2 separate regions of the Homo sapiens genome follow, and region 1 is linked to region 2. A link means that fine-mapping ties the variant in region 2 to the expression of a gene that starts in the linked region. Tissue or cell type: monocytes after Pam3CSK4. Region 2 holds a variant in brackets; the other region holds the start of a gene. All regions are shown on one strand. Distances are from middle to middle.

The links. PIP is the estimated chance that this variant, and not a neighbour inherited with it, causes the effect.
Region 1: it holds the start of PLD2, and the variant in region 2 is fine-mapped to the expression of PLD2 in monocytes after Pam3CSK4 (Quach 2016, PIP 0.95).

What each region holds. Positions count from the first base shown.
Region 1 is chr17:4,804,078-4,809,187 of GRCh38, forward strand. PLD2 (phospholipase D2) reads left to right here and starts at 3,075. Exons shown (of 25, transcript NM_002663.5): 1 at 3,075-3,148; 2 at 3,695-3,804; 3 at 3,907-4,037; 4 at 4,197-4,339; 5 at 5,023-5,110. The coding sequence starts at 3,696. It also overlaps a transcript of C17orf114 not described here. RefSeq lists a silencer at 2,626-3,415 and an enhancer at 3,811-5,010.
Region 2 is chr17:4,763,847-4,771,898 of GRCh38, forward strand. It overlaps TM4SF5 (transmembrane 4 L six family member 5), which reads left to right and starts at 8,040. Exons shown (of 5, transcript NM_003963.3): 1 at 8,040-8,052. RefSeq lists a silencer at 218-380. The variant A/G (reference allele first, on the strand shown) is at 4,900.

The DNA of each region.
Region 1 (5,110 bases), 39 kb after region 2:
CATCGATGCCCTCAGACAGTTTGGGGTGGCCAGAGCCAAGGCTGGGAGCATCTAGTCAAGAGCATCCTAGCCAAGGACTCTAAGTGCTCTTAAGTAAAGCTGTGGAAGTGCTGTGTTTTTTTTCTTTTTTCTTTTTTTTTTTTTTGAGATGGAGTCTCGCTCTGTTGCCCAGGCTGGAGTGCAGTGGCACGATCTCAGCTCACTGCAACCTCCGCCTCCCGGGTTCACGCCATTCTCCTGCCTCAGCCTCCCAAGTAGCTGGGACTACAGGTGCCCGCCACCACGCCTGGCTAATTTTTTGTATTTTTAATAGAGACAGGGTTTCCCTGTGTTAGCCAGGATGGTCTCGATATCGTGACCTCGTGATCTGCCCTCCTCAGCCTCGCAAAGTGCTGGGATTCCAAGCGTGAGCCACTGCGCCCAGCCACAAGTGCTGTTTCATCATTCCCTGAGGGTGCCACAACGTGGGGAGTGTTAGGTTGCTGATTACAGGGTACTGCCTGAGTTACACAGAAATGTTTCTTTCTTTTTTTTTTTTTTTTGAGACAGTCTCACTCTGTCACCAGGCCGGAGTGTAGTGGCACTGTCCCGGCTCACTGCAATTTCTGACTCCCTGGTTCAAATGATTCTCCTGCCTCAGCCTCCCGAGTAGTACGCATCACCACACTCAGCTAATTTTTTGTATTTTTAGTAGAGACGGGGTTCACCATGTTAGCCAAGATGGTCTCGATCTCCTGACCTCGTGATCTGCCCGCCTCGGCCTCCCAAAGTGCTGGGATTACAGGTGTGAGCCACCGCGCCCCGCCTTCTTTTTCTTTCAATGAACTTTATTGAAGCAAAAATGCACATACAATGTAATGCACACATCTTAACGTACAGTTCCATGAGTATTACCAAGTGTATGCTCCTATGCAATCACCACTCCTATCAAAATACAGGGCATTCTTATCATCCTGGAATGTTCCCTCACGTGTCCCTTTACAGGCAATCTTTTCCCTACACCCTGCCACAAGCAACTACTGATCTGATTTCCATCACTATAGGTTGTTTTTGCCTGTTTTATAAGTTTAAGACCGGGTGCGGTGGCTCACGCCTGTAATCCCAGCACTTTAGGCCAAGGAGGGCGGATCATTTGAGGTCAGGAGTTCGACGCCAGCCTGACCAACATGGAGGAACCCCGTCTCTACTAAAAATACAAAAAATTAGCTAGGCGTGGTGGCAGGTGCCTGTAATCCCAGCTACTCAGGAGGCTGAGGCAGGAGAGAACCCGGGAGGCGGAGGTTGCAGTGAGCCGAGATCGCGCCATTGCACTCCAGCCTGGGCAATAACAGCGAAACTCTGTCTCAAAAAAAAAAATTAGCAAAAGGCCGGGAACGGTGGCTCACGCCTGTAATCCCAGCACTTTGGGAGGCTGAGGAGGGCGGATCACTTGAGGTCTGGAGTTTGAGACCAGCCCGGCCAACATGGTGAAACCCCGTCTCTACTAAAAATACAAAAATTAGCCGGAAATCCCTTGAACCTGGAAGGGGGAGGTTGCAGTGAGCCGAGATCACGCCACTGCAGTCCAGCATGGGCAACAAGAGCGAGACTCTGGCCGGGCGCGGTGGCTCACGCCTGTAATCCCAGTACTTTGGAAGGCCGAGGAGGGCGGATCACAAGGTCAAGAGATCGAGACCATCCTGGATAACACGGTGAGACCCCGTTTCTACTAAAAATACAAAAAAAATTAGCTGGGCGTGGTGGCGGACGCCTGTAGTCCCAGCTACTCAGGAGGCTGAGGCAGGAGAATGGCGTGAACCTGGGAGGCGGAGCTTGCAGTGAGCCGAGATCGCGCCACTGCACTCCAGCCTGGGCAACACAGCAAGACTCCATCTCAAAAAAAGAAAAAAAAAGAGCGAGACTCCGTCTCATAAAAATAAAAATAAAAATAAATAAAAAATAGCAAAAGACTGAATAGGCACTTTATAAAAGAAGACATACAAATGGCCAATCAGCACATGAAACATGGTCAATATCATTGATCTCCAGACAAATGCAAATCAAATTGCAATGATGTGCCCACAACACCCATTAAATGGCCAACGCTAAAGACTGACAATATCCAACGTTGGCCATGCCATGGAATAACTGGAACCACCATACACTGATTTTGGAAATCTAGAATGGAAAAACCATTTAGAAAAAAATCGTTTGGCAGTTTCTTATAAGTTAAACACACACTGATATGATCGAACAACTCCACTCCCTAGTTACCCAAGATAAAGGAAAACTATCCACGCAAACTTACAGGAATGTTTACAGGAGCTAAAACAATGGGCAAAACTAGAAACCCACATGTATATCAAAAGAGAAAAATAAATCTGCTTTTTAAAAAAGATTGAAATATCTTGTATTTTAATACCCGAAAAAATTTTATTTCCCCCTAGACTGCCAATTCCAGCTGAGCAGGCTCTCTAACCATCTTATTTACTACCATACTCTCAATTTCTGGCACGGAGTAAGCGCGCAATAAATGTTTGGTGAATGAATGAAAGAATGCCCGCTTTCATACACTAATGGGTTTGTAGCCACCACCCCTCAGGCCTTTTACGCCCTCATTCCTTCCAGGTACAAACGCTATCTGGGCTAGGCCAAATGTGGCTCGCAGCGGGTCCGGGAGCGGGGCACCTACCGGCAGCTCCCGCAGCGGAGGCGCGTCCCCCGGGCGCCGAGGCAGCGCCCGCGGCTGGAGGGGCCCGGGGCGGGCGCCGAGCCCGAGGGATGCGCGCAGCGCGGGGTGCCCCGGGAGGCAGCGGCCGGGCACGCTGGGACCGACGGCGCGGGACGCCCCGACGCCGGGCAGCACTTACCCGCCGCACCGAGAGAGCTACGCGGCCCCGCGGCCCTGCAGGGCACAGGGCGGCCCCCTGCCCGGGGCTCTCGGTGGCGCACTGGGCGGCGGGGCGGGCCGAGGGCAGCGGGGGCGGGACAGGACAGACGAGAATCCCGCGGAGGTGAGGCCGGGGGCCGCCCCGCCCCCGAGGGCAGGCCCTGAGCCCCGGCCCCGCCTCGGCCGGCCCCGCCTCGGCCGGGGCGTGGGCTCCGGCTGCAGCTCCGGTCTGCTCTCTTGGCTCCGGAACCCCCGCGGGCGCTGGCTCCGTCTGCCAGGGTGAGGGGGCCGGGAAGGGGCGCGCGGGGGTCCCGGGTCTCGGAAATCGGGCGGGGACGGAACGGGCTCGGGCTGCGGGGCCTCCAGACTCAGTCGCACGCTCAGATTTCGGGATTTCTACCCCCGGCTGGGATCGCGTAACTTCCTCATTCCCGCCTGGACCCCTGCCCCCGGCCCGCCTGGCCTGGCGTGAGCCCCGTAGCCGCGCGCTCTCCGGACCACCCAGGGCCGCTTCCCCGCGCAGCTGCTGCGCCGCCCCAGGTCGGAGCCTTCCGGGCCTGGCTGGGTGTTCCCCGGGGCTCTGGTTACGGGACGGGGCGGGGGGCGGGGGGCGGGACTGGGATTGTGGATGAAGGACTAAGGTAGGGGATGGGGGCTCGAAGGGGTCGGTGGGGCGTTGCAAACTGGTCAGGCGTCATCCGCGGGCGGTCAGGAGGCCGTGGGGGAAGAGGAGGATCTGGAAGAGATGGAGGACCTGCGGGAGTTAGGATGGGGGGCGGGTTCTGCAGGACAGCTCGCCTCCCTGAGGCTTCCCAATGTTCCTAGGATGACGGCGACCCCTGAGAGCCTCTTCCCCACTGGGGACGAACTGGACTCCAGCCAGCTCCAGATGGAGTCCGATGAGGTGGACACCCTGAAGGAGGGAGAGGACCCAGGTACACAGGGAAGATGGATGGCCCTCAGGGAGGAGAGGCGTTCGGGAGCCAGGGGGCTGGGGCCTGTTGTGGTCTACACTCCTCGACTTTCTTTCCTCCCAGCCGACCGGATGCACCCGTTTCTGGCCATCTATGAGCTTCAGTCTCTGAAAGTGCACCCCTTGGTGTTCGCACCTGGGGTCCCTGTCACAGCCCAGGTGGTGGGCACCGAAAGATATACCAGCGGATCCAAGGTGGCCAGACTGGCCCCAGGGAGGGGGAAAGGGAGGGCGGCCCGGAATGGATCCAAGGTGGCTGGGCTGGCCCCAGGGAAGGGGCAAAAGGAGGGCTGGCCAGAGTGGGGAGGCGGGGACCCACGCAGGGGACATCCATTCAGTTCCTCATACCCCTAGGTGGGAACCTGCACTCTGTATTCTGTCCGCTTGACTCACGGCGACTTTTCCTGGACAACCAAGAAGAAATACCGTCATTTTCAGGAGCTGCATCGGGACCTCCTGAGACACAAAGTCTTGATGAGTCTGCTCCCTCTGGCTCGGTGAGGGCGACCGGACTGCTTCCTGTAGAGGGCAGGTGCTCCCCACCCTCCTTTCTGTCTGTCTCACCCCGGGGCCACAACCTTTCCTCCCTGCAACTCTGGCCACTGTGCTGCCTCCCCTGACCCCAGTTACCAGGAAACTTTCCCTGCTCAGCTTTCCCTGTCCATGGTTCTGTGCCAGCATCTCAGCTGGGCGGGATGCCCAAAATGCTCTTGGCAGCCTCACCCTTTTCTAGTCTCCATTCCCAGGGTAGGGGGCCTCCGTTTTGCCAGCCTCTAGGCCTTTTGTTTGTTTTTTGTTTTTGTTTTGTACAAGGTCTCCCTCTGTCACCCAGGCTAGAGTGCAGTGGTATGATCTTGGCTCATGGCAACCTCCTGGGCTCAAGCAGTCCTCCCGTCTCAGCCTCCAGAGTAGCTAGGACCACAGCCACCACACCCAACTAATTTTTGTATATTTTGTAGAGATGGGGTGCTGCTGTGTTGCCCAGGCTGGTCTTAAATTCCTGAGCTCAAGTGATCCACCTGCTGCGGCCTCCCCAAGTGCTGGGATTCCAGGCGTGAGCCACCACGCCTGGCCACCTCCAGGCCTCTTCTTTTCCTCCGAGCCCCATCTCCAGTGTTTTCAGGAACCAGAGCACCCAGCCTCCCAGCTCTTACCTGACCTTCATCCATCCTTTCCACAGATTTGCCGTTGCCTATTCTCCAGCCCGAGATGCAGGCAACAGAGAGATGCCCTCTCTACCCCGGGCAGGTCCTGAGGGCTCCACCAGA
Region 2 (8,052 bases):
CTGGGATTACAGGCATGTGCCACTACGCCCGGCTAATTTTGTATTTTTATAGAGATGGGGTTTCTCCATATTGGTCAGGCTGGCCTCAAACTCCCAACCTCAGGTGATCCACCTGCCTTGGCCTCCCAAAGTGCTGGGATTACAGACGTGAGACACCACGCCTGGCTAATTTTTGTATTTTTAGTAGAGATGAGGTTTCACCATGTTGGCCAGGCTGGTCTCAAACTCCTGACCTCAGGTGATCCACCCGCCTCAGCCTCCCGAAGTGCTGGGATTACAGGCGTGAGCCACCGGGCTTGGCCGAAAATATAGTCTCTAGCTTAGCAGCCATGTGCCTTTAGCAGCAGACTACAAAGTCTGCTACTATAATAAAAGCAGAAGACTGGGACTAACTCACTATCTCTGTCACATACTAGGTCAAGCATGTGCTACTCAGCTATGGGCAGTGAGTACGGAGCCACAGAGTTTAGACAGATTCCCTGGAGAGGATATTCGCTGGATGCCTCCCCATCATTCATTCTGTCTTTCCTCCTTCCTAATACTGCCCTTAATTTCCCAGCCTGGTGGCTTAGACAGAATTGACAACACCCCCTGTGCTGGAATGCCTCCATGTGAAGAAGGACATGTTTGCTTCCCCTTCCGCCATGATTGTAAGTTTCCTAAGGCCTCCCCAGCCATGCTAAACTGTGAGTCAATTAAACCTCTTTCCTCTATAAAGTACCAGTCTCGGGTATGTCTTTATTAGCAGCGTGAGAACAGACTCATACAGCATGTTCTACCCTCTGGCCACAGTGATCCGTGTAAGGGACAGACATAGAACCCAGTCTGCACCAAGGAGAAATTTTCTGGGGTAAATGGGAAAGAAACTTCCTCTCTACTCAGGGAAAGCTATGCGAGGAGATTCTCTTCCTCCTGGTGGTAGGGTGTAAAGACATAAGGTCTGAACTGCTGCAGCTAATACTACTGTCAGGAGGAAGATCCCACTTAAGGAGGAAGTCAAAGCCAAAAAAAGGAACAGCAGAGAGAATGGCAGAGAAACAAGAACACTGATGACATCCTGAACTTCTGGACCAAACTGCACCTGCAGTTAGTCCTACTTCAGTCCTACTGGATGTTTTGATTGCTTGAACCAATAAATTCCCTTTTTGTTGCAATAGAGTTGGGTTTTCTGTTACCTGGTATAGTTCCTTACAATGGACCCAGAGTATGGCAAGCAATAATGACATATTTAATAGTATTAATATCATTTTTAGAATTTACATTATACAGCTGCCCTTTAAAAGAATTTTTTTTTTTTTTTTTTTTTTTGAGACAGAGTTTTGCTCTTGCCCAGGCTGGAGTGCAATGGCGCGATCTTGGCTCACTGCAATCTCCACCTCCCAGGTTCAAGCGATTCTCCTGCCTCAGCCTTCCCAAGTAGCTGGGATTACAGGCATGCGCTACCAAGTCCAGCTAATTTTGTATTTTTAGTAGAGATGGGGTTTCTCCATGTGGGTCCGGCTGGTCTCAAACTCCCGACCTCAGGTGAGCCGCCTACCTCGGCCTCCCAAAGTGCTGGGATTACAGGCGTGAGCCACCACGCCCGGCCACTTCAAAAGAAATTTTTACGGGGCTAGGTGCAGTGGCTCACGCCTGTAATCCCAACACTTTGGGAAGCCTATGTGTGCAGATTTCTTGAGCCCAGGAGTTCAAGACCACTTGGGCAACAAAATGAAACCCCATTTCTACAAAAAATACAAAATGATGGCTGGGCTCGGTGGCTCACACTTGTAATCCCAGCACTTTCGGAGGCCGAAGTGGGCGGATCACCTGAGGTCGGGAGTTTGAGACCAGCCTGACCAACATGGAGAAACCCTGTCTCTACTAAAAATACAAAATTAGCCGGGCGTGGTGGCACATGCCTGTAATCCTAGCTACTAGGGAGGCTGAGGCAGGAGAATCGCTTGAACCTGGGAGGCAGAAGTTGCAGTAAGCTGAGATTGCGCCATTGCACTCCAGCCTGGGCAACAAGAGTGAAACTCTGTCTCAAAAAAAATATATATATATATATTTACATATATACACACAAAAAGATTAGACAAGCATGGTGGGTGGTGAACATCTGTAGTCCCAGTTACTTGGCAGGCTGAGGCAGGACGATCACTTGAGCCCAGGAGATAGAGTTTGCAGTGAGCCAAGATCATGCCACTGCACACCAGTCTGGACAACAGAGTGAGACACTGTCTTTAAAAAAAAATGAGACTGGGCACAATGGCTCTGGCCGGGTTGTGGTGGCTCATACCTGTAATCCCAGCACTTTGGGAGGCCAAGACAGGTGGATCACTTGAGGTCAGGAGTTCAAGACCACCCTCCAACATGGTGAAACTTAGTCTCTACTAAAAATATAAAAATTAGCCAGGCCTGGTGGCCCATGCTTGTAATCCCAGCTACTTGGGGGGCTAAGGCAGGAGAATCGCTTGAACTCAGAAGGCTGAGGTTGCAGAGTCAAGATGACGCCACTGCACTCCAGCCTGCATGACAGAGCAAGACTCTGACTCAAAACAAAAGAGAAGAAAAATATTTTTTTCCAAAATGTGCATCCAGTTTTGTAACCAGATATATGAAATTTATTTAGACTTACGTCAAGACTTCCCCATTTTGGGGTTTTTATTTTACTTCATCTCTTGGTGAGTCAACACAATTTCTCTAAAAAAAAGGAGCCAAAGTGTTATTTTGAAATCCAAACATTCTCAGAAATGCAATTGTGTTGCCCTTAACATACAAAATGCAACTTAGACATGTATATGATAGTTCTACCTTTTTTGGTGGACACAGCTGCCTTACTCCTTTGTCCTCTGACATTCAGTATTTCAGAGAAGACTCTGGCCACACCAACTATTGTTTCTTTCTAAGTAGCCTTTTTAAATTCTGCCTAGATGTATCCTTTAATTCAGATATTTTGTCAGGATGAATCTATGGTCAGCTGACTTTTAATATTTTACCTGCCGTGCAGTATAACTTTCAACCCACTGACCTGAGTGGATCTATCTGCGCTCAGTGACGTCTTCTCCTAGTGCAGATGTTTTAACTGTGGTGTCACTTCCACCAGTTCTATTCTTGTTCTTAGGAGAAGCCAGTTTCCTGAATTTTTTTTTTTTTTTTTTTGAGCCAGAGTCTCACTCTGTCACCCAGGCTGAAGCGCAATGGCGTGATCTTGGCTCACTGCAATCTCCACCTCCCGGGTTCAAGCGATTCTCCTGCCTAAACCTCCTGAGTAGCGGGGATTACAGGCACCCGCCACCATGCCCAGCTAATTTTTGTATTTTTAGTAGAGACGGGGTTTCCCCATGTTGGTCAGGCTGGTCTCGAATTCCTGACCTCAGGTGATCTGCCCGCCTCGGCCTCCCAAAGTGCTGGGATTACAAGCGTGACCCACTGAGCCTGGACCTTTTTTTTTTTTTTTTTTTTGAGATGGAGTCTTGCTCTGTTGCCCATACTGGGGTGCAATGGTGCGATCTCGGCTCACTGCAACCCCCACCTCCCGGGTTCAAGCGATTCTCCTGCCTCAGCCTCCTGAGTAGCTGGGATTACAGGTGCCTGCCATCACACTTGTCTAATTTTTGTATTTTTTGTGAAGATGGGGTTTCGCCATGTTGGCCAGGCTGGTCTCAAACTCCTGACCTCAGGTGATTCACCGAGCTTGGCCTCCCAAAGTGCTGGGATTACAGGCGTGAGCCACCGCGCCCGGCCAGCCTTTTCTTTCTTAAGTTATTCTGTTCCTAGTTCCAGGAGAATTCTAGTGATGTCATCAAAAATCTTCCTGGAAATCTCTTCCAAATCCTATAGTAAATGTTCCTCCAGAGGATTCTGTTTCTTTCAGTCTTCAGGTTGATTTGCCCTTCCCTGGTTTTGAGAAAATTTTTCAGAATCCCTATAATGTTTTGTTAACATTATTAACATTATTTCATTCATCCAGAATTGTATAAAAATAATGTAATGAATGCCTGTGGACCACCCCACCCACACAACTATTTTTTTTCTCTTTATTCATCCTCAAAACAGACACCATTTGGCTGGCCGCAGTGGCTCACACCTGTAATCCCAGCATTTTGGGAGACCGAGGTGGGTGGATCACCTGAGATCAGGAGTTCGAGAGCAGCCTGGCCAACATGGAGAAACCCTGTCTTCATCTCCACAAAAAATACAAAAATGAGCCAAGCGTGGTGGCGGGCACCTGTAATCCCAACTACTTGAGTCTCCTGAACCCGGGAGGCGGAGGTGGCGGTGAGCCGAGATCACGCCACTGCACTGCAGCCTGGGCAATAAGAGTGAAACTCTGTTTAAAAAAAAATAAAAAAGAGGCACCATCTCTCAGAATCAGCTTGAGCAACTTGTAGACAAATAGGTGGCCAGCTCTTGGCCCTGCTCTCTGTCCATCAGATCAATGGCTGAATCCCCTCTTCAGGTCCACGGTTGGAAGGGCCACTATTCGGGATATGACAGTTGCTCTGGTAGTTCAACATTAGTGCTGGTGACAACCTCTCATCGGCCACCTCCTGAGGAACCAGAGTTTTCCAGTGCCTGTGCTTCTCCCTCTGGCGCTGTTTCAGAGTAACTATTCTCCATACACTTCTCTTGCTGTGACTTCTGCTTATTTCTGGTGTCAGTTGCCTCTGGCTTTTGATTGCTTCTTTCTTGCATACAACTCTCAGTTTGAAGCCACCCCACTCTCTGATGACTGTCTCAGCTTGTCTCACAGACACATTTCCCAATCATGAAGATCCAGTCGGTGGATTGGTCATTATCCAGTCAGTGTACCTCTGTTGGATGGAGTTCTCACCTCGAGAGACCTCACAGGTCGCTGGCTACATGTCTGCCTTTGGGTCAGCTACTTGTTCCTCAATCAACCAGCCCTGGCCT[A/G]GATAAGGGGGTCTGTGTTAGGAACTTGTTACTGGGCAACAAACCATCCCCCTCGACGAAGTCTTAGTGTCAAATAAATATAAGCATTTATTTCACTGATACACACATAGGAGTTGGCTGGGGGTCAGGTGATCTAGGGTGGGATCCAATGTGACCCTTTTCCTTGTATCTTTTTTTTTTTTTTCTAGATGGAGTCTTCCTCTGTCACCCAGGCTGGAGTCCAGTGGTGCAATCTCGGCTCACTGCAACCTCCATCTCCCGGGTTCAAGCAATTCTCCTGCCTCAGCCTCCCGACTAGCTGGGATTACAGGTGCCTGCCACCACACCCAGCTAATTTTTTTTGTATTTTTAGTAGAGACAGGGTTTCACCACGGTAGCCAGGATGGTCTCGATCTCCTGACCTCATGATCTGCCCACCTTGTCCTCCCAAAGTGCTGGGATTACAGGCGTGAGCTACTGCGCCCGGCCAAAAGAAATTTTTTAAATTAGTTGAGTGTGGTGGTGTGGGCCTGTAATCCTGGCTACTAAGGAAGCTGAAGTGGGAAGACAGCTTGAGCTAGGAGGTCATAGCTGCAGCGAGCCATGATTATCTTACCATGGCACTCTAGTCTGAGTGACAGAGACCCTGTCTCAAAAAAAAAAAAAAAAGGATAATGTAAAATCTTTAAAGAAAAGGGACAGAGGCTGGGCGCAGTGGTTCATGCCTGTAATCCCAGCGTTTTCGGAGGCCGAGGCGGGGATCATCTGAGGTCGGGAGTTCGAGACTAGCCTGGCCAACATGGAGAAACCCCGTCTCTACTAAAAATACAAAATTAGCTGGGCGTGGTGTCGCATGCCTATAATCCCAGCTACTCGGGAGGCTGAGGCAGGAGAATTGCTTGAACTTGGGAGGTGGAGGTTGCAGTGAGCCATGATCGCACCACTGCACTCCAGCCTGGGCAACAAGAGCAAAACTCTGTCTCAAAAAACAAAAAAGAAGAGGAACAGAAAACATCAGAAGCAATATGGAAATGTTGTTTAAAGCATTAAACATGCCAACAGAAGCAAAACCAAATGTATCAGTCATCATAATTACCTATGAGTCAGAGACAAATAGTTGGGGAGGTTCAAAGTATTTTCTTTTTCAGGCATCCTCTGATTCAAGAGGTAAATTCTCCATGTATTTTTCTCAATCCAGTTCCTCTGTCTTATAAATAGCAGAGATTCTGGCTTTTCTCCATTTTCCACATTTCTGTAGTGGTCTGAGTGGGCCGCAAGGAGGGGCTGCATCAGGGGCCACTGGCTGGTGACACTTTCCAGGTGACAGCCTCATTGCATACCCTCTGAAGCCCTGCAGCCCTTCCTGCTACCCTCATCTCTTCATGGCACTCCCACATCCTACTTGAGCTAGGGCTCATTCTGTGGGGGCCTTCACTCTCCTGTTTGCTTCTGAGACCCAGGAGGCAGAGGTTGCAGTGAGCCGAGATCACACCACTAAACTCCAGCCTGGGTGACAGAGCAAGACTCCATCTCAAAAAAAAAACAACAAAAAACCATTAGCCAGGTGTGGTGGCACACACCTATAGTCCTAGCTACTCGGGAGGCTGAGGTGGGAGGATCACTTGAGCCCAGGTGGTCAGGGCTGCAGGGAGCCATGATCCACTCCACACCAGCCTGGGCAACAAAGGGAGACCCTGGTCTCAAAAACATTTTTTTAATTAAAAAAAAAAGAAGTCGACTGGGTGGCTTGGCTCATGCTTGTAATCCCAGCACTTTGGGAGGCTGAGGCAGGTGGATCATTTGAGGTGAGGAGTTTGAGACCAGCCTGGCCAACATGGTGAAACCCCGTCTCTACTAAAAATACAAAAATTAGCTGGGTGTGGTGGTGGGCGCCTGTAATCCCAGCTACTTGGGAGGCTGAGGCAGGAGAATCGCTTGAACCCAGGAGGCGGAGGTTGCAGTGAGCCAAGATCACGCCACTGCTCTCCAGCCTGGGCGGCAGAGTGAGACTCCGTCTCAAAAAAAAAAGAAGTTATCAAGGAAACTGCAGCACCCCAACAAAAACAGAACTTCTTTGACCTCAGAATGGAAAAATGGCAGAAGCTGATTCTCACAGAGTTGGCTCAGATCGCATGGCTGTTGCTAAATCAAACACCGAGGCTAGCAGGATAGAACGCTCTCATCAATGAGGCCTAGGTCCCGAGCCCACCCTGAGAGACAGGCAGTGGCCTCAAGAGGAGGAGACATCAATAATCAAATACCAGGAAGACGAAATGCAAGGACAATAAGAGCCCACAATCACCTCTTTAATTTCTCCCTGGGAAGAATGCTGCCTGAGAGGCTGGCAGAAACGAAGAGGCCACCACACATCTGCTCTGTGCTTCCTAGTTTACAAAATACTTCTCAGGTTGTCCCATTTAATCCTCACAAGTAGCCCACAAGGCAAGTGGCATCACTTATTTATTTATCTATTTATTTATTTATTTATTTATTTACTTTTTGAGACAGAGTTTCATTCTTGTCACTTTATTTACTTATTTATTTATTTTTCGAGACAGAGTTTCACTCTTGTCACCCAGGCTGGAGTGCAATGGCACAATCTCAGCTCACTGCAACCTCCACCTTCCAGGTTCAAGTGATCCTCCTGCTTCAGCCTCTCGAATAGCTGGGATTACAGGTGCCCGCCACCATGCACAGATAACTTTTGCATTTTTAGTAGTGACGGGGTTTCACCACGTTGGCCAGGCTGGTCTCAAACTCCTGACCTCAGGTGATCCACCCTCCTCGGCCTCCCAAAGTGCTGGGATTACAGGTGTGAGCCACCGTGCCCAGACACAAGTGGCAACTGAGACTTAAGAGACATGAAGGGGCTTGGCTAAGTTGCAAAGCAGGTATGGAACCAACAGAGGGGCTGTGGAGCTGTGCAGAAAAAACAGGAAGGCACTAACCCAGGGTAATGTGTCCATAGCCCCCACCTTGTCCAGCACCACATCCTCCCTTCACCTCAGGGCTGCAGCTCCTCCGCCTCTGCCTCCTCAGGGCCCACATCCTGTGCCTCTCTCCCTTATCATTCTGATCCTGCCAGTTTCTGCCACGCCTCTGTCTGAACTTTGCTCCGTGCTCCAGGCTTGTTTTCCTCTGGACCTGGGAACCACTGGCTTACTTTCACTCACC